Linked DNA regions of Homo sapiens: all the other regions are linked to region 3. Evidence: fine-mapped expression QTL. A gene starts in region 3. Each other region holds a variant in brackets. All regions are shown on one strand. Distances are from middle to middle.

Region 1 (2,500 bases), 100 kb after region 3:
ACAGATGAAATGACAAGGCTGAGGTCTCCGAGCCTGTTAGGGCTTCTGACCCTGAGTTTGCAGCCCACAGCCCACATCCTTTACCATCACCCTTTAGCTGTGTGTGCTGTGCTTGGTCAGCTAGTGATCTCCCAACTTGCTGATTCTCCCATCAGGGACTGGGGCTCGGAAAGCAAGCATCCTCTCTGACGCTAAGCTCGGAAGTCTAGGTGTATCACAAAATAGTCCGAATTTTCTTAAAATGACATTTGCTGGTAATTAAACTTGAACAGTTTCTTACAGAAAACATTGTATAACTGTACTACATGCTTGTAGACTGATCTATGTAAACTTAGGCTTCTTACCCCTTTTGTAGGAAGCTGACCTTTTAAAGACTTTCATGGAAGCTGTAACCTTCTATGCAGAGAAATGTACAGAATCTCTTCATGTTTAAAATTTTGCATAAAAATCTGGGGATTCCAGTGTAAGAATTTCTGCAAAAATATTCTTCATCTGTTTTGCTCATGCTTCAAGCATTTTCCTCTACTTTTAAGTTTGATCTGTCCCACTGTGAAGGACAGATACAAAAAAAAGGACTCATGCAGATTGAGGCAGGTCCCACCATTCTGGCAAGGATTGCTGCTGCAAACCTTTTTGTCATTTGATGATCAAGTTCGTGTATTCCTTTTCTCCACTTAGATAATACATTGACCCCTCAGCTGTCATTTTTAAGAGAGTAGTTAAGCGAAAGAAAATGAGTAAAGAATAGTGCTGTGGACCGTGACACTGCACTCAAGTTTTGTCTCCTGGAGGGCTTCATTATATTCGCTCAGCCAGTCCTCCTACCCTCATCCCTCAGGAGGAATGTTGAATGATTTTCAAATGTGAATGCTTTGTGCCTTTGGATAGGGCAAATGCTCTCTGGCCACCACAGTCCCCACCACTCCCTATTGTCTTCCTCCTGACTCCTGATTTCATTTTCTACTAGGCCCCTGTAGGCTTTTAAGATTTTAGTCCCCAGACAGTGTTGCTTTTGTCTGACAGAAAACCTTTGAATGAGTTTGTGGTTAATGTTTTAAAGAGCATTCTATGATGGACAGAGCCAATTGTTGTGCTAGCACAAAGAGAAAAATAGAATAATGGAATAAAACAGGGTTCATAAAGAGACCCCCAGACGTGTGGTCATCTAATTTATGACCAAAGTGGAGAAGGAATGTGCTTTGCAGAAAATGGTATTGAGTCAGTTGGCTATCCTCTGGCTTTCTATTTCATCCATAAAATGAAGGAAACAGACGTAATTTTTTTTTATGAGTCACTGTATATAGTATGTTGTATTTGTATGTGTGTGTGTATGTATGTGCATATATATAGACACATATATAATATATATGTATGTGTGTGCATACATATATATGAAATGTAATCAACAGTTTGCCCCTATTTTAACTTTTTAAAA[G/A]CAGAGAATTAGGTTGGGTACGGTGGCTCACGCCTGTAATCCCAGCACTTTAGGAGGCCGAGGCAGGTGGATCATGTGAGGTCGGGAGTTTGAGATCAGCCTGGTCAACATGGTGGAACCCTGTCTCTACTAAAAATAGGAAAATTAGCCAGGCGTAGTGGGACATTCCTGTAGTCCCAGCTACTGAGGAGGCTGAGGCATGAGAATCGCTTCAACCCAAGAGGTGGAGGTTGCAGTGAGCTGAGATCATACCACTGCACTCCAGCCTGGGTGACAGACCGAGGCTCCATCTCAAAAACAAACAAACAAACAAAACAACGATACCAACCAAAACCCAGACAATTGGACTATGAGTGAAATTCATAAAGTGGCCATCATTGCATAATCAAGTGTTCCCTCTAAAGAAGTTTTCTCTGGCTGGGCGCGGTGGCTCACACCTGTAATCCCAGCACTTTAGGAGGCTGAGGCGGGCGGATCACGAGGTCAGGAGATCGAGACCATCCTGGCTAACACGGTGAAACCCCGTCTCTACTAAAAATACAAAAAATTAGCTGGGCGTGGTGGCGGGCGCCTGTAGTCCCAGCTACTTAGGAGGCTGAGGCAGGAGAATGGCATGGACCCAGGAGGCAGCGCCTGCAGTGAGCGGAGATCGCGCCACTGCACTCCAGCCTGGGCGACAGAGCAAGACTCCGTCTCAAAAAAAAGAAAAAAAAATCAAAAAGAAAAGAAAAAAGAAAAAAGAAAAAAAAGAAGTTTTCTCTGCACCCAAAGGCAGTAAAAATCTTAACAAGATTCAAACTGGTAGCTGACATAGGGTCAGATTCCCCAGGTTATGTAGATGTAGATGTAGACAAAGGTAGGTCTGTTTGTGATCTGGGCTGAAAGCAGTCAGGTGAGCACCAGGGTGAAAGATATGTCTTAGCTGGCCACATTTCTAACAAAGGGACTTGGAGCAGGAGTTCAGTCACCTTAACCCATGGGAGGAGGGGCAGCAGCAGCAGATGATTATATTTCAAAGGCTCACCTCGAGGGACCAAAGATAAGAATCACCGGTAAAATAACCGG
Region 2 (2,500 bases), 280 kb after region 3:
GTAAGACATATATTTAACCATTTATTACCCATAATATGACCAAAAATGTGAATATGGTAAATTGTTTTCTTCTGCTTCTCAGAAAGCAGAAAGGGAAGAAAGGGAGATCATTTTCCTCAGAAGGTAAATTACATGCAGTTGTCTCTAAAATCTTTCTATTCAAAGTGCAGTGCAATCTTTCTGACCAGTTACTTCACCCCTGCGGTTTGGTGGGCAGGGAATTGACAGAAATTGTATTTTATACTTGCAGAGTGCTTTTAGAAAGTGATAGGTCTCAGTTCAAGAATCAGAATGAGATAATAAGAAACAGTGATTGTACTATTTTTGTTCCACATCCTACATTTACTAACAGATCTAAGCCAAAGGGTGTAGTTGCTTATAAAATGTACCAGCCTAAAGCAAAGACTTCCAAGCATAATAAAGCTTTTTTTATAGTTTAATTTAATCCTTCTAGGTATTTGCCTACCACCATGTCCAACGGAATGTCTTTTCTGCCATCTAGCACTGGATTGCAGTAGTCAAGTACTTAGAAAAGACCTTCACTTTGTAATCTTCTGGAGCATCGGACAGAATGCTAATGTGCATGTTGATCATCTAGGATCTTGCTGAAATTCACTTTCTCACTGAGTTGGTTGGTGGGGCCAGATTCCTTGTTTCAAACAAGCTCTCCGGTGATGCCGATGTTGCTGGATTATGCACTTTGCATAGAAAGATTTTAGAGGCAACTTCGTGTAATTTACGTTCTGAGGAAAATGATCTCCCTTTCTTCCCTTTCTGCTTTCTGAGAAGCAGAAGAAAACAATTTTGCGTATTTCACATTGTTGATCATATTATGAGTAATAAAATTGAGCCTGAATGTATACACAAAAGTTGGCAGCCATCCCAAAGATGGATTTAGACCAATTCCTTGCAAAATAAAAAAAAGATTGAAGATAGAAATATTGTGTTATAAATCATCAGATTGTCAAAGGAGACAAATATGTGGTTTGTTTTGTCTGATGTGGATATATCCTGATTTCAATTATCAGTTATAGCTTGCTGTGAAAATTCCATCTAGTCTAGTCCAGATGGTCTATACTGTAGTGACCCACCTTGGTGGGATTCTGAGAGCCACCAGCTTACCACCAGGCTTACTGATTTGGTTAGAGACCTACCAATGCTAGTATCTGGCTTGAGAGCTAGGTTAGAGCAGAGCTGACCAGTTACTTCACCCCTGTGGTCTGGTAGGCAGGGAGTGACCAGAGATGTGCCTGGTATATTGATTAGTGGTAGGGCTTGAGGTGGTCAGAGCCTCCAGGCTGGTTATCTCTAACTATTCTCCTCCATTAGCTGAGATAGAGCCCCAGGGGAGCACTATACTTAGCATAAAGTAAAATCTTGCCATGGATAATGTTGAGCATTAACAGAAAGATACACATGACAGAGAAGTACATTTTTCCTTTCCTTTCCCCTTCCCCTTCCCCTTGCCTTCCGTTCCCCTCCCTTCCCTTCCCTTCC[T/CTTCCT]TTCCCTTCCCCTTCCCCTTCCCCCTTCCCTTCCTTTTCCCTTCCCTTCCCTTCCTTTTCCCTTCCCTTCCCTTCCCTTTTTCCTTTACCCTTTCCCCTTTCCTGTTTGTTCATGCTTTCATTTCATTGGGGTATAAACCTAGAAGTGAAATTGCTGGTTCATATGATAATACTATGTTTAACTTTTTGAGGAACCACCAAACTTTTTTATAGGGATGGACTATTTTACATTCCCGTTAGTAATGCGTAAGAGTTCTAATTTCTCCATATCCTCATCAGCACTTCTTATTTTCTATTTTTAAATAATAGTCTTCCTGGTGGTTTGTAGTGTTATCTCTTTGTGGTTTTGATTTGCATTTCTCTAATGACTAATAATGTTTGAAAATCTTTTCATGTTTTTATTGGCCATTCATAAATCTTCTTTGGAGAAATGTGTATTCGGTTTGTTTTCCATTTTAATTGGGTTATTTGTTTTTAATTTTCGAGTTGCAGGAGTTATTTTATATTCAGGATACTACCTTGGTCATGTGTTTTTATTTTCTTTGGGTATATATTTAGGGGTGGAATTTCTGGGCATTAATTGGATGTACATTTAATTTTATGAGAAACTCCCAAATAATTATTCAAAGTGGCTATGTCAGTATGCAGTCCCACGAGGAATATATAAGACTTCAGTTGCTTTGCACGCTTGTCAACAATTGATCTTGTCAGCCTTTTAATTTTAGCCCTTATGATGGGTGTGGAATGATATCTGACTGTGGTATTTAAGTTGCATTGCTCTGATGACTAATCATGCAGAGTACTTTTCACATTCTTGGTAGCCATTTTCTTGTCTTCTTTTATGAATATCTGTTCAAGCCCTTTGTCCACTTTTAATTTGGTTGTTTTTTCATTATCTGTAGGAATTCCTTTTATATTTCAACTTTGAGTCCCTTGCTAGATAAATGCTTTACGATTATCTCCCATTTCCCCACCCCGGTCTGTAACTTGCCTTTTCATTTTT
Region 3 (2,652 bases):
CGGGGACCTCGGAGCGAGAGTGGCAGAGGACTGGACCCCGCCGAGGGCGCTGTTTTTATAACCCCGTTAGGAAAGAGGGTCCCCTCCCACTGCCATCCCAGCCGCGGAGCGCGCCAGCCAATAGGGACCTAGCGAGAAGCGGGGAGGGTGGGCGGGTGGGGTGGGGGCGCCCTCGAGCCTTCCTGCTCCGGGGCCTGGGACTGGGCATGGTCCCGTTACTTCAGCGCTGGGCTGGGACTTTTGGGGGCTTTCCGGATGATAGTCTGAGCTGGGCTCACCCTGGGGTGCTGAAAAAGGCGGGGTCGCGCGGTGAGGGGGGGGTCCGCCTGGGACTGAACCAGAGGGGTCCGGTGGCACCACGCCAAAGGGGCGTGGGAGGAGGTGCGCGGCGGTCTCGGGGCTGCGGTCAGGCGGGGAGACCCGCGGGCAAAGGAGCGGGAAGAGGAAAGAGTAAGGAATCCCTCAGATCTGAAGTCGCGGAGAAAGAAACAAAGAGCGCCTGAGATTGGAACGCGGGGTGGGGGCGCGCACAGCGCAGGAACGCAGGGCTCAGGCCTCGCCGCAGCCTCGCGCGCCGCCCGCTTGGAAAGGGGGGCTGCTCCGGCCCGCGCCTCTGTCCATCGACTTGCCTTGGCGGAGAGATGTTGGGGGGAGGGGAGGTTCTGTCGAGGGACCTAACGGGCTCAGTCCAGCTTCGGACGGCGGGAGTTGCGAGACGGCGGTGGCAGAGGAAAGCCCGAGGGAGAGGGGTGGGGTCGCTTAGTCACCGGCGGTGACTCACCGCGCCCTGCTGTCCCGCCGATTGAGGGCTCCTAGCGGTTTAGGGGAAACCGTTAGACCAGATTGATTCAAGTCTCAGCGGGCTCCGCGCGCGCTGCTAGTTCTCAGTGCTACCAACTTACAGCTGGGCCATCGCCTTGCTGTGTGCGGTCGGGCCCTGTGGGGGACAAGAGCGCCCCTAAGTTTTTAATAACTCGCTAAAGCCTGTCTTTGCTCGAATGTGCGGACTTTTTGTTAGCAAGAAACTTCTGCAGCCTTTGGAGAGGCGCCATACGTGGGCCTCCCAGATCACGATTGCACCGGGAAGGTTTTTCTTGCAGAGTCCCCGCCCCCGTCCCTCTGGTCTCCTCTCGCTCTTCCCCCTCCCCCCATGAAACCACACCCAACTTTTTAAACAAGATCTGAAAATTCTGGGTGAAAGAGGAAACTCGACGTCCGTAGTTTCAAAATAGAACTCAGTGATCAGTGGTTTTTACCCTGGTGGAAGTCATTAAAGGTATAATATGAGCCAGTTAAAGAATTAATTAGGTGTTGCTTAAAAACCCCAATTTGATTAATGAGTTCAAATGAAAGGCAATTATGTAACACAAATGACAGAATCTTTGGCGGCAATAGATTTATGTGTTAATTTTAGGACAGCAATGCACAGTACAGGGTTCACGGTGATTTGTCTGGGAAATGCCATAGGTCCTGTTTTCCAAAAGAATTCGTGCAATTGACCTTGGGGTGAGGGGGATAAAACTGTCTACGCAGCAAAAAACTTCGTGTCCAAGACATGGAGGGAGTGTTCAGATTCGGTCACCTTAACCTTTCTAGGGAAATCACTCAATTCAAGGGCTGTTGTTTCAATATTAGTAACGAGCAGAGCTGAGTACTTACCCGCCAAGGGAGATAAAAGGAGACTATGTAAATCAGTCTTCTCGTGATTTAGTAGCAATTGAAAAGGCACAGGTTTTTTTGAGTATTTAGATTTATGGTGTACTGAAAGGATTAACTGCAGAACCACTGTAAAATTGATTCTGCAGTGGATAGGAGAAAAAAAAGTATTTCTCTCTTTTTTTTTGGTGGCGGCAGGGGGTACTGCAGGTTACTTGGTATTTAAGAAACATAATTTAGAGGTAAATGAAGAGCGTATTCTGACTTCTTTGGACAAGCCTCTTTTAGGCAATATTTTGTTTACCTTATCCCAGTTCGTTCTTGCAAATGGTGCTTGCCAAGGTGGAATTACAGGACTCTCTACTGCCCAGCTCGCCTGCTGGGGCTTTCTTTTATTCTCTCTTTCACTGGGAGGCTGCAGGTCATTCCCCAAGAGCATTCCTGGGGCTGGGTGCCCTGGAGGACAAGCCTATGCTCTGAGTTACATCTTGCTTTCTGAGAGCCCTTTATTCAAGCCACTGCTCAGCAAATGCCACCATTGTGAGTGTGCCTGGAACCCTTAGAATGAGAAAAGTGATCTCCCTATGGGAGGAAGAGAGTGTGGAACTCACTTCTACGTGCAGTGCCGATCCCAGGGCAATGCGACGCTTGCTGACTGACTCACTATGGAAAAGGAGGACAAGGCATTGGCGAGGTGTGGCACTGTGCCCTGCTGGTGCCCATAGCCGATTCCTCAGGGCTGCGGTGATGTCTCCTGGAATGGGCACTGGTCCTCTTCATCATCTCAGGGATAGGTAGCTCCTCCTTCCAACCTGTCCCCATTCTGAAGTCTCTGGGCTGTGATAGGCTGCTCTCTTGTCACAGACATATGTTTGTTTGATGCATATAGAATGTATAAAAGTGTAGGTGTTCTGTAGTCCCAGCACTTTGGGAGGCCAAAGCAGGAGGATTGCTTGAGATCAGGAGTTTGAGACCAGCTTAGGCAACATATATATA

Evidence for each region. PIP is the estimated chance that this variant, and not a neighbour inherited with it, causes the effect.
Region 1: its variant is fine-mapped to the expression of VIM in unexposed skin (GTEx, PIP 0.98).
Region 2: its variant is fine-mapped to the expression of VIM in whole blood (INTERVAL, PIP 0.99).

What each region holds. Positions count from the first base shown.
Region 1 is chr10:17,124,078-17,126,577 of GRCh38, reverse strand. The region is part of intron 4 of CUBN (cubilin); the gene reads left to right. Among named protein-coding and RNA genes, the nearest start is that of CUBN, 4.5 kb to the left of the region's middle. The variant G/A (reference allele first, on the strand shown) is at 1,436.
Region 2 is chr10:16,941,861-16,944,360 of GRCh38, reverse strand. The region is part of intron 36 of CUBN (cubilin); the gene reads left to right. Among named protein-coding and RNA genes, the nearest start is that of RSU1, 130 kb to the right of the region's middle. The variant T/CTTCCT (reference allele first, on the strand shown) is at 1,498.
Region 3 is chr10:17,226,654-17,229,305 of GRCh38, reverse strand. VIM (vimentin) reads right to left here and starts at 1,065. Exons shown (of 10, transcript NM_003380.5): 1 at 782-1,065; 2 at 1-30. The region is part of intron 1 of VIM-AS1 (VIM antisense RNA 1); the gene reads left to right. RefSeq lists a silencer at 2,372-2,586.